Homo sapiens: one gene and its partners. The protein of the gene in region 2 purifies or fractionates together with the protein of the main gene of each other region. This does not show direct contact. Each region holds a gene or a part of one and is shown on either strand. Other genes may lie near its edges.

Region 1 (7,029 bases), on a different chromosome or scaffold from region 2:
TGCTCATTTTCCCTTTTTTTCCTCAAAAGGAAAACCTCAAATAGCTAATATGACCATACCTTCCCTATTCTCCATAAAATGTTTCAGTCAATCAGCGGTTACAAGATCTGCCTCTAACCCCTGGAGATGCTCATCCCTAATAGAAAGCTATATGGGCCTTGCCTATTTTAAAAACATGTATCAAGATTCGATCAGAACTGATTAAAGAATTTTAGATATGTAGAAAAAACTATTAGCGAAGAGGTGATCAAAAACTGACCTAAAAGCTTGTTTTCATTCATTAACCCACTCGTTTTTACTTTCATCTTGCAAAAGAAATCTGGAGTCTGATATTCCCTCAACCAGATATATCAGTAAAGGTAGATTTATTGACGATATACACATTTGAAATTGAAATGTTTTTAAAATGTGTAAAACCCTGACAGCAATTTCTTTGTAATGGTGCAAATTATAACTTAGATTTTGTTTTGTTTGGGAACTAACTTTGTTTTCTAACAAGTTAATTTCCAAAAGAAAAGTGGACCAAAGTTAAACGGGCTTTATTTAAACACAAGTTCTCTGTTTTAGAACCTTATGATAGTAAGTTTCACAGGATAAGGATAGGGAAAAAAGTACTGCAAGTCATTGCAAATTAAATAGAATGTTTGGTTCTGAATTTCCTCCCTTCTCTCCAGCAAAAATAACAAGGATAATTCTGTTTCAAAACCAATTTTTAACTCTAATCTTTAAGCTCTTTAGGAAAACAATCAATTTTGTGGAATTATTTATATTTTTCTTCATTAATACAGGTAAGTAAATAATAGAGTTCTCTTTCTTTTGTATTTTGGAAGGTTTTTCTTTTGTCAGCATCATTTGATAGCTCTTACTTTAAATTACAGCCATCAAAACCATGTGTTTTAGGGTTTAAATAAATTTAGATTTGAATTAACAATAGTTTTCATATTTTTTTTTCAAGTAAAACTGGCATATGAAACTGTACAGTTACTTTACGAATTAGGCTAAATCGCACATTTTATAAAAGGATTCAAAACATATTTCTCTTCAAGTTCTGCGGTCTTTAATTTTAATGATTAGTGAGTCAGAGTACCAAATTGCGATGGTGTAAAAGTTTTCAGAAACTTACCTATAAAGTGGGCTATAGCTGCACAGTGTTTCACAGGTAGTTCTAAATTCTAGCCTCTTTAGAACTACACAATTCATCTCAGCCTACAATTTAAGATTTTAAAAAAATTGTTTTTCCCCTCATCTAATGCCTGACATAGATAGCTATTTCTATATGTTCTTGGCTGAGTAACAAAAAATCAATGTCTGAAGGTAATTAAAGCTTTAAAGAAGAAATTCTTTTACTACTGAATTTCAAGTCACACACACAAAATAGGTGAGAAATTATTTTATCATATTTAGAATCAAAATATCCCTTAAAATATTTACATTTTACAGTAAAAAGGATAGCAAAACACAAGATCATGTACAAGCTTAAGTATTCAAGTTTCTGAAGAGCCAAAAATGAAAATGAAAATAATGGCCTACCACAAAGCTGTAGTATATGGTAATAAATGACTTCAATGAGTGCAGATTAAAGCAATAAATGTACCCCTTGGGCTTCTGATTCTTGGTCAAAAACTGCTCAACTAAATGATTAGCATAATCTGATTATGAAGTTGCTTGGATTTTTGTTGCTCCTCTACAGTTTCTTTAAAAACAGTGCAATTTAAAACAAACTTACAGAGCACACATTACTCCCAAATTAGTCATTATATAAAGGACATTCACTAGAGGAAGTAAATATATTCCATAGTTAACCATATTTACCAATTAAGGAATAAAACTAAAATTTCTAAGCCTTTATTGCATATTAATAAAACAAATCTTTGAATATACAGCAATGTAAAACTTTTAAAAATATTAAATTCCTATAACTAGGGACCGTTGGTATGAAGAAGGGATGATGAGCACTGGTACAGAGCACTCTGTACCAACACACAGAATTTACTGTTCTGCAAATGACCAATAGTAAAAATTTTAAAGATGGCACAATCCTAGCAGGCAATCTTTCTTTTGTTTACAAGATACAACATTTTAACAGTTATTTAAATGTAATCCTGAAGCAGCCTGCAAATTTTACCTTTTGCTTTTAGTTCTGTCAGTGTGGTCCCTATCTTTGTGGTACCTATCCCTGTCCTTTTCTCCTTCTCTGTGTTTACTTTTCTCTCGTTCTTTGTCCTTCTCATAGTCTTCACTTTTAGGTTTATCTGGCTTCTTGTCTACATTCCTACTATCTCTGCTTGCTTTTCCATCTGTTCCTCGATCACCATGTGATAACCGTGCCCTCTCTTTATCTTTGTGCCCTTCCTCCCTGCTTTTTCTGTCTCTGTCCTTGTCTTGGCTTCTGTCTCTGCGTCTATGCCTTTCAGATTCTTGCTCCCATTCCTTTTCATGTCGCTCTCTTTTCAAATGGTGTGAATCACTATAAAATCTCTGGCGGTCCCCTTTACCCCTATTAAATGGCCTATCCAGTTGCTGTTGGTCTTGCCTACCCCAAGGGTCACTATGGCGCCTTTCTGGCCTCCGAATGTCTTTAACCTGGTAAAAATTCTGCGGGCCTATATACCTTGATGCTTGTGAGAGAGGACCCATCATACGCTGTGGCTGACCTGGGAGATGAACAACAGGTGGCCAGGGAACCATGGGATTTTGAGCAAAGCCAAAGCCTGGAGGGGGAAGTAATGGAGGTGGCAAATGTGGTGGAAATCCAAACATGCTTTGTGGGGGAAAATTAGGAGGCCCTGGAAATGGAAATCCAGGTGGGCTAGACTTGAGATGCTGAAGGTTGGGCTGCTGTGGCCTCATGGGTGAAAAGTTTGTACTTGTTCTGGGGCTGGTGCTTCTGGAAGTAAAGGTGATGCTTTTAGAAGGAAATTCTGATGGACATGTGTTTCCAACTTCAAAATGAGATGTCGCTACTGCTGATCCTCTTCGAAATGGGTGCACAGTTTCAATATTTTGCATTAAAATATCCTCCTGTAAGGGTTTTGCTTGTTCTGCTTGAGAAGTCTGTATGTTTTCTACTGATGGTGAGTTTTGTGCAACTTTTAAATTGTCACTCTGCTGAACACACGAGTTTTTCTCTGCAGAACACAACTTTTCCTCTACATTGATTTGTTCTGTTAAGTGCTCCTTGTTGTGTGACAGGCCAGGCAGCATGTGTTTTTCTCCATTCCGGCAACTATCTCCATCTTTGCTTTCTGAAGTAGTTACAGGCTGACTTCGTCCTGCTGCTTGCCTAGGATCCCTTTTCAGGTTGATAAACTGTGGAGACCTCGCTGTATTAGCAACAAGGTTTTCACTACAGCTCACATTACCATCTATGTTTCCTTTTCCTACATTAGATCTGCATGGAGAACTATTTGAAGTCTGGTTATCTTGCAAATTATTCTCTTGATCTTCCTGAAGCTGTCTTTTTAATGTTTTCTCTTTACTCTCCACAGTTTCCTCTTGTTTTGACTGAATTGATAAATTTGTTAAAAATGCTTCTGTAGAAACATCTGGTGGCTTACCTCTGAGACTAAGACTCGTCAAAGACCCTGCAGAAATGGAAGAGGACCCTACTACTGATGTTTCTATTTCTGCTGACTTATCTGTAGATTCTGAAATATTATCTACTTTAACTTTTATCTCCTTGTTTTCACCATCAGTTACTTCCACATTATCTGTTTTCTCTATTTTTGAGTTGGTCTGCTCATTTAAAAATGGAATTTCTTTAACAGTGTTTTGTTCCATCACTGACTGGGCCTGGTCATATACTTGACCAGTGGTGCCCAAAAGGCTTTGAAGTATATCATCCACAGGAAGAGGTTTATTTGCTAATTCCAGAGTAGTAGGTTGATTCTCCCAGCCAATCAACACGCCAGGAAGAAATCTTAAAGGTTTTGGTGGCTCCTGTTTGGTGACTTCCATTAAAGGTTCAACTGCTGTTGGAAGGTCTTCCTGAAGATTCTGCTGAGGTTTATTTCTCTGCTTGTGTAATACAGTTGTAAAAGAATTAAAAAAGTCATTTTCTTCCTCTGGTGCTTCTTCTGTAGAAACTTCTATTTTACTTTTTTTATCAGGTGGCAATGCTATTGGTGGTGCACTTTCAGGAGTCTCAGCTATATGACTAGTACTAGCACAGGCACTGTGCTGTCGCTTCAGTTTCTGACGAATAATTAAGCCCAACAATAGATTAGGTCTATGCAGTTCAAGCCCTGTATAAAACCAAAAACATCAATTAATTCATCATTTTCAATCATTGCAAAAAAAGGTAAAATTCTGCCTCTAACTTATTACAGGATATTAAATGGTGCCTGGCCCTGTCAAGCCATCTCTAGAGGGCTGGATCCTGAGAAAGAAGGCAGAATCAGTCTTTTCACTCTGGTCCCACCTCCCATGTTATTTCATTCTTATCCTATTATTAAAACGTATACCTACCAGGTCCATCAAAAGGCACAAGAGGGTGTGGAATTTTATCTGTGGCACCCAAAGGAATAAGGTACATATCTTTAACCTGCTTCATGTTGTTAGCAGCTACTCCATAGCGCTTTCTGCTACTGAAGTATGCAAAGAGCAAAGTATAAGAAATTTGATCTTCTTCAGTTACTGGTGTGAAGCGAACCACACAAATTTCCTGTTCAAGAAAATAACAAATAATTGTTTAAGGTAATAAGCTAAAGAGTAGCTTGGTTTTAAAACTATTTCTCAATTAGTAATAATCTATTGAACTTTATAATGATGGTACCAAATAACGTGGTTTACCAACTTAAATACAGAAGAGAATATTAAAAGCAAGTAACTCTTAAGAAAAGATCTTTACTGATCCATTGATGGATTTATCTGATAGCTTACATTTCTTACGGAAACATAAGAAATGGAGTCCAAAGGTGATTAATGACTTTTTTGAAGGTGACAGATACAACTTGTCAGTGGCAGAGATGATACTGAAACCCAAGTCTTCTAATATCTACACTATATCCTGATTTCCAATGCTGTAACCTCCACAAAGGGCTGCTTATGTTCTTGAACCACTGGGAACTAAAAGCACCCAACACTTCCACCCTACCATACATTTATATACACAAACAGACAAATCTACTAATAATCCAGTTACTAGGCACTGAATTTAGAAATAAAAAGGGCTGGATGAAGAGACCTTAAATACATATAGACCGTAAATTTTGTAAAGTAATTTGGCTTAGGAATTTTCTTGCTTGCCTCTAGGTTTTGTTTCAGATAGAAAAGACAGTCCTAATTTGTTATTAATTTGGTAGTGTTCAACAACAATGTTTTTTTTCATGATGGTATATGGCCGAAATGGGAGAGCCAGATTTGCTGCAAAGCCTAAAACTGATACAAGCTCCTAAGGAAAACATGTGAATGAGCTGAAATATGACTCTCTTATAAAATGTGTGTCATCTAAACTGCCCTCTTTTAGAGTAAAAATCACCATACATATGTTAGTAACAACTATTACAGAGTGTTTAAATCTGTTAAATTGGAACATACTATAAAGTGTTGGGCAGTAATATATGTGTGGATTCAAGAGTGATTCTCAAAATGCCCAAGAGTAATACTTCTCATTTTTATTAGTGCTTTAAAGTTTATTTGTATTTTAACACTGTATCAATTTAAATTCTAAAAATCTATACTGGAACAAAATATTCTTTTCAGCTTAAGATTATCCATTTTGGATCATTCCAAAGAAAAGCTAGAGACTTCTGAAAAAGAGGCAAAAAAGTAACATTTATTCATTCAAGATTTATTTATCGAATGACTGTTAATATACTAGGTACTATCACATCCCGTGGAGGGAAAAACAATTTCTTCTAATGATTAAATTTTCCTCTGTAGTAATATTCTATAAGTTAAAAAAAGAAAAGAAAATGTAGAGAGAAAAAGGAAAAGGAGAAATATTATTGTGATAGAGCCATTTCGCAGTATCTTTTCTCCTTTCCTCCTATTACTAATAAGAAGCCCTTAACTTTTAGCTGGGCACATGGCCATCCAATAAAGATTACATTTCCCAGCCTCCCTAGCAGCTATGTATGGATGGCTATGTGACTAGGTTCTTTCCAATGGAAGTTAATGACTGCAATTTGCCTTTCAAACAACTAGACAGGTATTCCTCATTTACTCCTATTTGGTATGTTTGACTGCTGAGGACAACACTCCAATCAACTTCTGTATTTTTTGAGTCACTATATTTTAGATTCTCTTTTTTGCAATAGCTTAGCTGTGCCCTAACTCAAACACTTGTCTGTAATAGAAGCAAGGCAAAATTCCAGGGTGAATTTCAATACTTACTCTAAAACATTTCTTCTAAAACATTAACAGAAGCCACAAAGAGAGCATCCCAGGAGAGGAAAAAAAAAAAATGCTGTACTGTTGACAGCCTCAGCAAATGGCTTTTGTTCAGTTTTGTGAGGTATATTACATAGACTTAAAATGTGTATTGCCTCCTTTCCCCAGGAGACTTTGCACCCTTGCATAAGAATTCTAAACTGTTTACTTTCTAAACATTTTCCCATGCTGGTATAGTGAAAAAAGTTTTCCTCACCTTGGTTCCTGATGCTTTTATTTTTTCCACATAATCCCAAACTGTCTGAGGTGATATCCTGCCACCTACTTGAATACTATCTGGTAGGTCCTATGGTTAAAAAAAAAAAAAAGAGATCAATATATATAGATTATCTTTATTATGACATTAGTAATTCATACAAATTTGATTCTAAGACTAATTTGAAACAGTAATAAAAACAAGTAAATAAAGAGATTATGAAAAATGCATCGGAAAACAGAATACAGAGAGCAATTAGGTTTTACTTGAAATGCCAACTACAAATGACTGTTGCCTAAAATACAGCTACTAAGAAAGAGTCTGAGTTCATGCCCAATCTCACTATGAAAGATGGGAAAGGGAAGCAATGGCAAGCATACCACATTAACAATTCAGAAAGAACACAACACATTTCAGAATATTAGCAGAGATTGTAACCT
Region 2 (7,029 bases):
TACCACCATGCCTGGCTACTTTTTTTTTTTTTTTTACTTTTATTTTTGTAGAGACAGAGTCTCACTGTGTCACCCAGGCTCGTCTCAAACTCCTGGCCTCAAGCGGTCCTCTCACCTTGGCCTCCCAAAGCACTGGGATTACAAGGATGAGCCACCATACTAGGCCAAAACCTTCTTTATATAAAATTTTTAAGTTACAGATTAGGAGAAAATATTCATAACACAAATAACAAAGGACTTGTATCTAGAATATATAAACAGTCCTTACTACTTAACAACAGATTAACCCAGTACCAAAAAGGCAAAAGATTCGGACAGATTCTCCATCAAGAAAACACAAATGACCAAAAAGAACCTAAAAAGATGCTCAACATCATTAGTCATCAAGAAATGAAAATTAAAACCACACTGAAATACCACTATACACCTACTAGATTGGCTAAAATTAAAGAGAAAAAAAAAACCCTGACAACATAACATGTCAAAGAGGATATACAGCAAATAGAACTCTCATACTCTGGTGGTGAAAATGTAAAATGGTACTATCACTTTGAGAAAGGTAATTTCATATATACTTAAATATACACCAAATGATCCAGCAATTCTTATATACCCAAATTCTCATATACTTAAGCAAACATCTTAAGTGTGTTAACCTAACGTCTTATAAACTGAATTTCTTATAAACTCAAACATCTACCCAACAATTATAGTTCTAGGAAGTAAAAGAAAAATGAAAACGTATGTCCACACAAACACCTGTACATGAATGTTTTACAGGAATGAACTTTATTCCTAACAGCAGAGGTTGACAATATTTTCTTCAATGGTCAAGTAGTCACATTTTAGGCTTTGGGGGCTGTGTACCTGTAACAATTACTCAGCTCTGCCACTGCAGCATGAATGCAGCTATAGAAAACACAAAAGGAACCAGCATTGATGTTTTCCAACAAAACTTTTCGTAATAACAGGTGGCTAATGCCTTAGCTTGCCGACCTCTGATAACAGCCAAAAATGAAAATATAACCAAACGAACATAGACAGTGAATGGATAAGCAAGGTGCATATCCAGTGAATGGATATAAATAAATTGCCTGAGGATGGAATAATACTCCCAATAAAAGGAAAGAACAACTAATACATAAAATGACATGGATAAGTCTCTCAAACATTATGCTACGTGAAAGACGCTGGCACAAAAAACCACATACAGCATGATCCCATTTATATTAAACATTAGAAAGATAAATCTCACCTATCAAAATAAAGAGCAAATTAGTGGCTGCCCGAGGCTAGGGGTAGAGGGTGAGGACTGACTGGGAAGATACACAAGGGAATTTTCTAGGAAGATGAAATTGTATACTACATACTGATCAGGGTGGCTACACCAATGTATACAATTGTCAAAACCCAAAAACTACACTTAAAATGTGTTCGCTTTATTATATATTAATTATACCCCAAAGTTGATCTTAAAAAACAAAGAACACTTCATAAAAAGTTGGAGAATGGCTCTGAGGGGAATTTCTTCCTTTTAAATAAGGCTGGAGGGAAGAATCTAGTTAGAAGTCAAGTTGCAATAATTCTGAATGGACTCAGTGGGAACCTGAACTTACAGTGGTATCAGCTGGAATGAAGAAAAGTAGAGAGATGTGAGAATTATTTAAAACAGTACTTGCATGTAAATATGAAAAAATTCTTAAAACAATATGTAAACATGAGTTTTAAAGAGAATCAATAAGATTAATTCTCAAAGGTAGTTGTTTCTGAGATTCTTACCCATCATGCTTAGTTTCCTTTGTTAATCTTCCATTAGGAGTCATTTTCATTTGCTATCTAGAATTATTTGCCAAAATGTTGCTATACTGTGAAATCATAAAACAAAAATCACATCATATCAAAGAGCCACTTGCTGCTTGTAAATTGTTCATTGTCGGGAATGTGCTAGTCTTCAAACCATCCTAGTTCCTGTCATACAGTCCTAAATCAGAGCTTTTCAAATGTTGAAGATAAAGAATATGCTTGAACTTTTACTCTAGCATTGTTATCCACTCCTACAGTATCTTTTCTGAGGTCTGCCAACAGCCATGTGAGGAAGCTTGGAAGCAGAAATTCTCCCTAGCAAGCTCTGAGATGAATGCAGTCCCAGACAACAGCTTAGCTGCAGGCTTGTGAAAGATGCTGGGTCAGAAACACCCAGTTAAGTGGCAACGGGATTCCTACCTGATCCAGAAACTGTGTTTGTTTTAAGCTGCTAAATTGTAGCAGAATTTCTTATGCAGCAACAGTTACTAAAACAACATCTGGTAACTGCTATTCATTTCTAAGAAGCCACAGGTACCCAAGTTCAAGTTGTCCTGTTGGTACCTTCTTCAATCACCTTGCTTAAAGTTGTCCCAACCATCTGGGTATCTTGTCACCAATCATCTTTTGAAATGGGGCAGGGAATCAGCAGCGTTTCAACGTGCCTTTTGTGACCACATTCCCATTTAAAGTTAAGTATGACTCGTGGTTACTGATGCTGCTACTCAAAAAACTGACATCTATAGTGGCCTAAGCCTATGATTTCATAACATAAAATAATGTTAAGTACTATTAAAATTGTATATTTGGTTCTAGAGCCATGACTACTAAGAGAGTGACTTTTTGAAAATAAATTTTAAAAAGGGAAAAAATCCAATCTATTTAGAACATTGTCTAAGCAGAAAAATTAAGTGCTTTCTACTCTGCATTACTAAAATAAAAGTCTTGGCCAATAAACAGAATTTTCTTAGGACAATATATACATATCAGATTAGCATGTTGTTCTGTTTTATTCTTCCATAATTTTTCTATAACGCTAATTCTGTAAATCAATACACAACATGCTGAATATACCTGACAACATACAAACATTGTAGGCTCACGGTCACAATGACAGTGAACCAAGTACTTAATCATATTCTAAAGCAGTTACTTGCTAAAATATTGCATATCATACCACTGGTACTATATGTAAGGTAAGCAGTTCATAGACACAGAATTAAACAATCTTTAATAAAATGGTAAGCACGTTGCTTCCCCTTCCTCCATTTTCTTTTGATCCTTTCACTTTACATTAAGGACAAAAGTGTGGGTTTGTTTTACCAGTCTTCCAACCTTCACCAGATCTTTTCACCAAACATATACAAAAGTTATGTCTCAGCCTCAGACCATTTACAGCAGGTAATAGTATCTATTTGATTTTAAGAGAGAAAAAATATCTCCTTTTTAAAAAATGGTACTTAAGGGAAAATAAATAATAGTATAGGTCAGTGATTCTCATAGTGTGGTCCCTAAACCAGCAGCAACAGCACCAGCATTACCTGGAGACTTGTTGGAAGTGGAAACCCTTAAGCCAGAAACCCAAACCTTCAGAATAGAAAATTCTAGGGGTTGGAACAAACAGTTTTAATAAGTTCTACAGATGTATTTCATGTACTTAAGTTTGCAAAATACTGATATATATGAGAGCAGAAACTGCAAAATCACAGTACTAATAAATCATATTAAAAAGATACAGCAAAAATCATAAAAGTGATGCATAAATAGCTGAAGTTTGAAAACTACTGTGCTAAAGCAAAACTGCTATCATCACAGTAAATCTTTATGTTGAAAAAAATAAAAAACTACCCTGCAGAAAATAAAGAAAATTTGACTCTGCTATCACAACACTTATTTCCTTCTAGCCAAATCACTGTGAAACAGGTAACCTTTACTATATAAAGCTTATCTTAAGCAAAGAATCAACATTTAAAAATATACTGGCTTCCATTATCTGGTATGCAAATGTATCTAACATTCATGAAAATGGCAAGGGCATTCTAAAATAGTCAAAACGATGATGTTTATTTGAACTTCACTTCATTTTAAGGAATCTTTGAAACAGCCTTCTTTCTCCTCCTTCTCAGTCTCACTTGTGGAATGCTCCTTCTTTTCCTAACCTCTAAATGGTAGAGGGCCACTGAACTCAGTAATTGGCTCTCTTCTCTTTCCTGTCAACAGTTACTCCTTAGGTGAACTGATCCTATCCAGTCTCACGGCTTGAAATCCCACATGGATGCTGATCGCTCCCAAATTTGTGTCAATACCCCTAACCTATTCTCTGAACACTAGACTCAACATATCTAACTATCCATTCCATATCTCCTCTTACATGTCTCATGGGCACTTTAACCTACATGCCTTATATACAGACCTCACATTTTTCAACTCTCTGTTCAAATGTAACTTCTTCAGAGAAGGCTTCCATGACTATCCCACGTAAAACAACTTCTCCCTCACTGTCCATCCCATAACTTTTTAAATTTTTCATGGCACTCATCACCTACTGCTACATAAATTACTTATCTGTTTTAGGTAAGCTCTAAAAGAGTAGAGTCCTTGTTCAGTTTCACCCTCTGCATACAGAACACACTTAATAAATATTTATGAAAGGGAGACAATACTGTGAAAGGATATATGTTTGAAAGATAAAAGTATAAAGGGGCTTTTTACCAACGAGTAATACAAATGATGAAAAGATACTTACTTTTCCTTTTTTTCTTGTTTGTGGGCCTCTCTCGTAATTTGAGCTGCTTTTCTACTATATGGATGGATGACTTTTTTTTCCCGTCCTGCACTTTTTCCCTTTGGTGCTTTGGGCTAAAATGTATGAAAACACATGACACATATAGTCAGATATGTAAGTGCCTTCAGTCCCAAAAATATTCTTTACAAATAAATTTTAAAAACAGTAATATGACAGAAATACAGTAAGCTAAAACTATTACAAGAAAAATCAGGAGATAAGCCAGGATCATTAAATAATTCTAATAATCTGTTGCCATGGTAATGACAGAAACGATATATTCAGAGGTGCTCTCCAATGACAGAAGAAAGGCACAGAAGGAGTCAATAAACTCAGCTCTTCAACAACATGTTCTATCTTCAAAGAAGATACAGGGACTACAGATAGTGAGGAGACTCACAGCCAGAAATTTGTTACAGTTAAGAAAATTAAGGGGTCAGAAGGGACTTGGATTATTAGTAGGGGCTTGATTGTAGATGTTTCACATGGAACAAAGCGGGCAATGAATCATGCAAAATCAAAGCTGGGCTCATTGCCTGTACAAATTAGGAATAGAGAAAATAATAGAAGCCATCTCAAAATTAGTATATCCAAAAGGAAAAATGTATCATTTTCCCACTGAAGCCTTATGCCAGTTAATCAGCCCACAATTCATTAGGTCCTCCAAACTAGACATCTCAGGTTTCTTTTATTCCTACATAATCCTGTATCTTACCTCACCTATAATGATCTAGGAATCATATTTGGCTCTCTGTAATAAAAACCCCAAATAATGGCATAACCCAGCTTAAGTTTGGTTCTTTATTGTTAAAAGTAGGAGCTGAAGGTTCTGTTCCACAAAGCCCTTAGGGATCCAGGATCCTTCCATTTTTTTGTCTACTAGCCTCAGGCTATACCTCCTATCTAGTTCAAGACAGCCTAATACCAGGTCTACACTCAAGCCAGTATGAAGTAGGAAAAGAAAAATCTGAAGGTACATCCCCTTTTTTTAAGAGCATGACCTGGGAAGTTGCAGATCCTTTTGCTCACATCCCACTGACCAAAATTTATTCACAGTGTTACATAAGGGAGAGTAGTAAATATAATCCTTATTCTGTGAGAAAAAGATCCATTCATATAGAAAAACAGAAAGAATACATTAGGGGACAGCTGGCAGTCTCCAACATACCTATTCCAGAAAAAGGCCAAGTGGCTTTACACTCTTCTTCAAAATTATTGTCAATTGCTTAATTCAATCCTCAGAATCTTTCATAATCAGGATAGTCTTTAGATTCTCCCCACTAGTCCTTTCTTCGGCAAAGCTACAGAGCTTGTCTTCATAAAACACTAATATAGTAAAGTCCCTCTCCCCTGCTTAAAGTGCTCTACTAGCTCACAGTTAGGTCCCAAGTCTTTAGCACAGAAACAATCTAGCCCCAACCTGCTTCTCCACCATTATTTCCCATGCTCCTCTATAAAAGATTCTTCACGCCATTCTTACTGAACTTCTCACCATTCCAGAACATACCAAGCTATTTCATAACTTCTTGAGACTGCACTTGTTATTACCTCTGCCTGCAAAATACTTTACTTGCCCTTTGATAAGATGCAGTTCAAAATTACTTCCTTTGTAAAACTAGGCAGAACTATTTAAAATAACCACAAATTCCTCATTCACAAATATATTCATTCTTTCAACACTCATTGAGCGCTCTGCTCGCTTTCTGATAAACCTGAGAAGATATATCCACATCTGAATCTTAAGGTATCACTGGAAGTTGGTTACAGGTATAGGAAAATATGTAGAACCATCATATAAGAGTATATGTACTCTTTTATGTATCTCTCTGCTCACATGGCAAGTGCAGAGGAGAAAGGCAGGTGTAATGAGGAATTTTTGAGATTAAAGTACCTAGCAAACATGAATCAAGTAAAAACTTTCAGGACATTTGGCAGGCTGCCTCTAAGATGGACCCAATAAACCCCACCTCCTGATCCTCATGCCCTTATGGAATCCCCTCCTTTTGAATGTGGGCTGGACCTACCGACTCACTTTTAATGAAGAGCATTTAGCAAAAGCAATGAAATGCCAATTCTGAGATTAGGTTATCAAAGAAGTCTGGCTTCCATCTTTCCCCCTCTCATGGAAACCAGCTGTCCTGTAGTGAGCTGCCATATGGAGGGGCCACATGACAAATAACTGAGGGAGGCCTCCAGACAACAGCTAGTGAAGAAGTGAGGCCTGCAGTTCAACAGTCCACGAGGAGCTGAATCCTACCAAGAACCAGCTTAACAATCCTACCAACAGCAAGCTTAGAGGCAGATCCTCAGCCAAGCATGGTGGCTCATGCCTGTAATCCCAGCACTCTGGGAGGCTGAGGCAGGTGGAATCACTTGTGGCCTGGAGTTCAAGTCCAGCCTGGCCAACATAGCAAAACTCCATCTCTACTAAAAATATAAAA
Region 3 (7,029 bases), on a different chromosome or scaffold from region 2:
TAACAGATGGCTTAGACCATTTTAGGAAATTCCTGATTGGGTAAAACAGAACATAAACATTTTAGCAATTAAGAGTTAGATATATCTTACAGTCAATAAGTATTCTTTTTTTTTTTTTTTAAACAGTGCCTTTGCTACCCTAGAAGAGGAGGCTTGTACAGAACTTGTTCCTTACCTTGCTTATATACTTGATACCCTGGTCTTTGCATTTAGTAAATACCAGCATAAGAACCTGCTCATTCTTTACGATGCCATAGGAACATTAGCAGATTCAGTAGGACATCATTTAAACAAACCAGTAAGTATCTGTTAAGAACTATTAGGGAAAATAATGTGTAGCATAGTTACAATTAATAGATTAGCATATATTTGGAAATTAAGATGTTTTGGGAGATGTGAATAGTTAGCGTTAGCTACTTTAAGAGTATAGATCTTACAAAGGCAGCAAGTATATCCCCTTTCATGTGGTATTCTTAAAGTAAATACATACTTGGTGTGGAAACTACAGCAGCATTTCACATGAATGCTCTGATACTTTTTAGAATGACTAAAGCAAAGGGATAAAAAAGTTTTTATAATCTGGATATCTGCTTTTACTTAATTCCTAATGTTTTTGAATCTACCACTTCATAAACACTGTAGCTTTAGAGTACCATATCTAGACATCTTTGTTTTTTCAGCAGGTACGGGGAGTATACTGTATAAAACAAATAGAAATTGGGGTAGTAGGTTTAAAAATGCTAAATAGTAATGCAAAAGTGCCTTGTTTCCAGTAGTGTTAGTAGAAGAGGAGGATGGATTTGTCTAATGAGGATTTAAGTGATAGTAGAATTTTAATATAGCTCCACATACCCTGCTGAATAGACTTCTATATGATTGCTATATCCAAAGTCTTAAGAAATTGTTTTATTTTTAAGTTACACTTAAGATTTGGTACAGGGCAGTTTATAGGTTTGCTTTGCTGTTGGTTGTTTGGTTTGGCTTTTGTGGGGGTTTGTTTTCTGAATGTCTTTAGAGTCTGTGCCCCTGTTTACATGATCACTATGTTTAGTCGTTTTATGGATCATTCTTTAGTTTGACACTTAAATGATTTTAAGTTTGTTTTTCTACAAAAGCATCTGTGTAAGTTTACCTGTTGATTTAAAAATGTACTATATAGTAACAGCCATATTACACGTTACAGTTCCATGACTAAAAGGAATTTTTTTGTGTGTGACAAGGTCTCACTCTGTCACCTAGGCTAGAGTGCAGTGGTGTGATCACAGCTCATTGCAACCTCCACCTCCCGGGCTCAAGCGATCCTCCCATTTCAGCCTCCCCTGTAGCTGAGACCACAGGCGTGTACCACCATTCCTGGCCAACTTTTTGTAGAGATAGTTTTGCCATGTTGCCCAGGCTGGCCCAAACTCCTGGGTTCAAGTGATCTGCCTGCCTCAGCCTCTCAAAGTGCTGGAATTACAGGTGTGAGCCACCATGCCCAGCCCCAGAACTAAAAATATTCTGTAACTTAAAGAGAAAAACTTAGGTCTGGGCACAGTGGCTCACACCTGTAATCCCAGCACTTTGGGAGGCTGAGGTGGGCAGATCAAAAGGTCAGGAGATCGACACCATCCTGGCTAACACGGTGAAACCCTGTCTCTTTAAAACTACAAAAAATTAGCCGGGTGTGGTGGGGGGTGCCTGTAGTCCCAGCTACTCGGGAGGCTGAGGCAGGAGAATGGCGTGGACCTGGGAGGCGGAGCTTGCAGTGAGCTGAGATCACGCCGCTGCACTCTAGCCTGGACGACAGAGCAAGACTCCGTCTCAAAAAAAAGAGAAAAACTTAGATCTTCCTTGATTGTGACTTTTTTAAGTAATAGATTTTGATTAGCTGTGTGTTTATTGATAGACTCTTTTTTTCAACAAGGATAAAAGATCAGTAGATCACTAGTTCTAGATCTAAAACTAGAACACGGTCATGTAAGTATAAAGGTAGGCAACAGAAAGGAAAACTTTAAAAGGGACTGTGCAGAGTGAAGAATGACTCTTAAAATGCCTTTTGTAATGATTTTACACAATTGCTCAAAATGGATTTTAATTTTCAAAGACTCAAAATGGTCTTGTTGACATGTGATAGTGGAATTTTATATGTTTTTCATCATTGTAAATAGGAATATATTCAGATGCTAATGCCTCCACTGATCCAGAAATGGAACATGTTAAAGGATGAAGATAAAGATCTCTTCCCTTTACTTGAGGTATGCAGGGCTAGTAATATTTAATCTGTTGCCAAGAACACATGTTCAAATCCAAAATGGGTATATATGATAAGAAAAGTGTTAATAAATTTATATTCTGAAGTAGACGGAGGAAATTATATGATACATACTGTTCTCTAACCTGCTTTACTTAATTGATAATAAATTAGAGTTTTAAGTTCTCTTATGTTATCTACTCTCTATATAGAGTAGATAGCATACTACTCTATATAGTATAGAGTAGATAACATACTGGGAGGATATATATACCGGGATATATATATATATCTTTTCACTCATACATATATGTTGAGTAGTGGGATTTGGTGCCAGTAAGGAGGTACTTATTTTCAAATTTGAAAATGTTTCCATGTGTACTTAACTACTTTTTTTTTTAACACCCCTTTCATTGCAAACTTTTATATGATGTTCTCGTAACTGAACACACTGTGAAATGTAGTCACTTAAACTTAGTTGAATTGACATTGATAGAACCAGTTCAGGCCTTTTCATTCTTGCTCCCTGTTATTTCAAGGTTCACCATCTTCTACCGTGGATTGTTCTTAGCCAAAGAAGTTAAATTTTCTATGACCAAGAGCAATTCTGGGCCCAGCAAAACAAGAAGAATCATTATGGTTCATTTTTTGTATGCAGTCGTCCCTCAGTATCTGCAGGGGATTGTTTCCAGGACTCCCCTTGGATACAGAAATCCAGCGATGCTCAAGTCCCTTATATAAAATGATGTGGTATTTGCATATGGCCTATGCACCTCCTCCCAATATACTTTAAATCATTTTAATTGTTTTTCTAAATACTTTTGATTCAAGATTGGTTGAATCCATAGATACAGAGGGCCAACTGTATATATATTACTTTCCGGCAGGATCTCAGAATGTGCCCAGTAAAGTCCATTCACAACATTGACCAGGATGGGAGCATGAAATGAATCTCTTCAATTTGAGGGAAAAATATGAACACATAATACTCAATCTGTCCTTTAAAGATAATGTTTCTTGTAGAAACGCTTCCTCTGAGTAAACCTGACCTGATTGGCTGGCAAACTAACAACAATGAATGGCTTCCAAAAGAGAGGGTTGGGGTGGGGGGAGGGGAACCTGCTACTGTAGAAACTAGTAGAGCAAGCTCATAAATGATCAGGATCCTGTTGAGCGCAGTTTCAAGCATTCATCATAATCTTCAGTATACCCAGAAAGTTTAGCATGTGTACTTTATTCTTCCTAGTGCCTATCTTCAGTTGCCACAGCACTGCAGTCTGGATTCCTTCCGTACTGTGAACCTGTGTATCAGCGTTGTGTAAACCTAGTACAGAAGACTCTTGCACAAGCCATGGTAATTTTTTTAAAATGTCTTCCTCTTCTTGACATGGTGGACATTTTTCTAAAGATAGGTATAATGTATACAGACTTTTTAAGTAGTTAATTAAAACCAAACTTACAAAAAACATTGTGTCTAATTTCAGCTAAACAATGCTCAACCAGATCAATATGAAGCTCCAGATAAAGATTTTATGATAGTGGCTCTTGATTTACTGAGTGGCCTGGCTGAAGGACTTGGAGGCAACATTGAACAGCTGGTAGCCCGAAGTAACATCCTGACACTAATGTATCAGTGCATGCAGGTGAGACTTGAAAGGTGAAAATGAATTGAAGCCTGTTTCTCTGTGTCACATTGGGGTTAATTTCTTCTTATTTCTTGTAGGATAAAATGCCAGAAGTTCGACAGAGTTCTTTTGCCCTGTTAGGTGACCTCACAAAAGCTTGCTTTCAGCATGTTAAGCCTTGTATAGGTATGAATATTTTCTACTGCTATGAATATGGTTTTTTAAAGTTAACATTTACATCAGCTTTGTTTTTTTATTATTAAACTGAAATTGCATGGAATCCCAACATTTATAAATGTACACTTTATTGGTTAAAGTAAACTTGCTGTGATTGAAACAGGCAAGATGGCAGGAACCCCTAATATTTCCTTGAGCTTGCCATCATCTCAGCTTTTTAGGTACTCCTGTGACTGGAGGAAAGCTTAGTAATATACTTTAGAGTAAAGGACATGCCCACCAGGGAAGCCTTGGTACCATGGACTAGTTAATAGATTCTTTTTTGAGTAGCCACCTTTTTGGTAGAGGTACACAGAAATAGTAATAATCAGGTTTTCTTCTCTAGCAAACCAGCATACTTTTTCAGATATTGCAGAAAACTTCCAACAAATGTCACTTTAACTGAGACTGGGCCTGGGGGCTCACACCTGTAATGCCAGCACTTTGGGAAGCCAAGGCAGGCAGATCACTTGAGGTCAGGAGTGCGAGATTCGAGACTAGCATAGCATTTGTCTTGGCCTTCTGTGACAATGATAAGAAATTCCTTGAATGTTGTACCCGGAATTGTTCTTAAACCTATGGGTTATAAATGAGTTATGGGATTTTTTTCCCCCTTTTCTGCATCTCAGCATGTTGGGTAACAATTATTTTAATACAGCCGGGCACGGCGGCTCAGACCTGTAATGCCAGCACTTTGGAAGGCCAAGGCGGGCAGGTCACGAAGTCAGGAGATCAAGACCATCCTGGCTAACACGGTGAAACCCCGCTTCTACTAAAAATACAAAAACTTAGCCAGGCGTGGTGGCTTGTGCCTGTAGTTCTAGCTACTTGGGAAACTGAGGCAGGAAAATCGCTTGAACCCGGGAGGCAGAGTCTGCAGTGAGCTGATACTGTACCACTACACTCCAGCCTGGGCAACAGAGCAAGACTCCGTCTCAAAAAAAATTATTTTAATACTTCATTTAAACCTTAATTTAAAATATTAATTGAATGTTTTGTCATCTGATATAATTGTGCTTTTGGATAACCATTTCTCAAAAAACTAACATAATTAACATTAATTATGATATATTAAGAACCATCAAGTTTAAACCTAACAGTGTAATGAATTCTTATGGGAAGCTTATCATTCTCATATTTACCACCTAATTTAGTTTTTTAGTTGAAACTTATATGAAAGGATTTAATTTTTTTATTATAAAGTGTTTAAGACGTACAAAAGTAGAAAAAATGTAACAAACCTCCTATCACCCAGCTTCAACTGTCCAGTCCTGTTTCCTATATACTGTTGTCAGTGGTGAGACACATAGATCTCAGATATTTTGGAGCAAATCTCAAACACAGCATTTGAAGTCTTAATATTTTAGTACATACTATACTATCTCTTCTTACAATTGTTTTTTGTTAAAGAAACCATGTTTTTTATTCTAAAGAGTTTCCTTTACTGTGGATTTTACTGATTGCATCTTTGTTGTCTTTAACATGTTCCTCTGTCCGTTGTATTTACTGTAAATTGTTTGGATACAGAGACTGAGGTTTAATGAGATTTACGTTGTTTTGTTTTTAAGACTTTATAGATGGTATTGTGTACTTAGTGTACATAGTGTCTAGTTGTCCCTCCTTTTTTTTTTTTTAATGTTACCAATCTTGATGATTGTCTCAATTAGTGGTTCTCAACTAGGGGCAATTTTGCCATTCGGGGAACATTTGCCAGTGTCTGGAGACATTTTGTTTGATGCTGGAGAGGTGCCATTGATGTCTAGTGGGTAGAAGCAAAGGATGTTGCTAAACATCTTATAATACAGGAGACAGCTCCCCTTCCCCCCAACAAAAAAATGATCTGGCCCAAACTGTCAATATTGCTGAGATCAAGAAACCCTGGCTTACATCTCCTGATTTATTAGGAGTTTAAAAAATTATGATATTCTAATTCTTCATTTAATAATGAAGATACTTATATAGGGAGACATTTCCCATATCAATAAATTACTATCCTGAGGTAAAATCATATAGCAGAGGCAAGATAAATACTTGATTCTTTTTTTTATTTACCAATTTTCAAAATAATGAATTGATTCCTATCATCCTCCAAAGGTATCTTTGATGTTTCAGAGTTTTGTTTTTGTTTGATTGTTTTTAGTGCTAGTGTGACTTCATGATGTTCAAGCTGTTGTACTGCTTGCAGTGAGAACTTAAGTTGGCTCCCGAGTCCTTTCATTATGACAAGATAGTCCACTTATTTTGCACATTTCCTGCCTTTGCCTGTAATGTGACGTTTTCTGAGAGTCCATTTTTTTTTAGTGGAAAATGTTATTCAGAGACCACAATCAGAGCACAAGAGTGAAAATTGCTTTAAAAGCCAAAATCATTGATTTTTTTTTTTTAGTCTAATTACAAGAGATTACTCTGACCAACTCTTTTTAGTGGTATGTAAAATATACCCAAACTTGTATTTCCTGTTCCACATTATTTGAAAGTTCATTGGCCAGATACTGTTTTCTTCAGTTTCTTAAGATAAACATTACCAACTCCTTTAAAAAATATTTTTAAATACAGTTGCCTAGTTTATTTCCACCAATTTTAAAATTGATGTTGCAGTAATTTTTTTAATGGTGAAACTTGTTATTTCTTGCTTAGATTTCTGTTTCCACCTAGTAGATTTCCTTTAAAGTACAATATACTGCTATTGAAAAGTTTACTACATAGTTTAAATTTTTTTTCTAGCTGATTTCATGCCAATATTGGGAACCAACCTAAATCCAGAATTCATTTCAGTCTGCAACAATGCCACATGGGCAATTGGAGAAATCTCCATTCAAATGGGTAAGATGTTTTTCCCTATTTAAAAGCATAAGGCCTGGCGCGGTGGCTCACGCCTGTAATCCCAGCACTTCGGGAGGCTGAGGCGGGCAGATCACCTGAGGTCAGGAGTTTGAGACCAGCCTGGTTGACATG

What was found. Proteins that work in one complex are often made in the same cells at the same time.
Region 1: the proteins of TMA16 (region 2) and PHF3 purify together in Homo sapiens (affinity purification with mass spectrometry; 2 studies listed by BioGRID and IntAct, with this or other methods). This does not show direct contact.
Region 3: the proteins of TMA16 (region 2) and TNPO1 purify together in Homo sapiens (affinity purification with mass spectrometry; 3 studies listed by BioGRID and IntAct, with this or other methods). This does not show direct contact.

What each region holds. Positions count from the first base shown.
Region 1 is NC_000006.12:63,708,801-63,715,829, reverse strand, and holds part of PHF3 (PHD finger protein 3), read right to left. Parts: intron 6,680-7,029; coding exon 6,590-6,679; intron 4,664-6,589; coding exon 4,468-4,663; intron 4,245-4,467; coding exon 2,122-4,244; 3' UTR 1-2,121.
Region 2 is NC_000004.12:163,504,666-163,511,694, reverse strand, and holds part of TMA16 (translation machinery-associated protein 16), read right to left. Parts: intron 4,663-7,029; coding exon 4,550-4,662; intron 1-4,549. UniProt on the Homo sapiens protein: Involved in the biogenesis of the 60S ribosomal subunit in the nucleus.
Region 3 is NC_000005.10:72,889,660-72,896,688, forward strand, and holds part of TNPO1 (transportin-1), read left to right. Parts: intron 1-126; coding exon 127-298; intron 299-2,150; coding exon 2,151-2,237; intron 2,238-3,479; coding exon 3,480-3,587; intron 3,588-3,717; coding exon 3,718-3,876; intron 3,877-3,956; coding exon 3,957-4,044; intron 4,045-6,798; coding exon 6,799-6,897; intron 6,898-7,029. UniProt on the Homo sapiens protein: Functions in nuclear protein import as nuclear transport receptor. Serves as receptor for nuclear localization signals (NLS) in cargo substrates.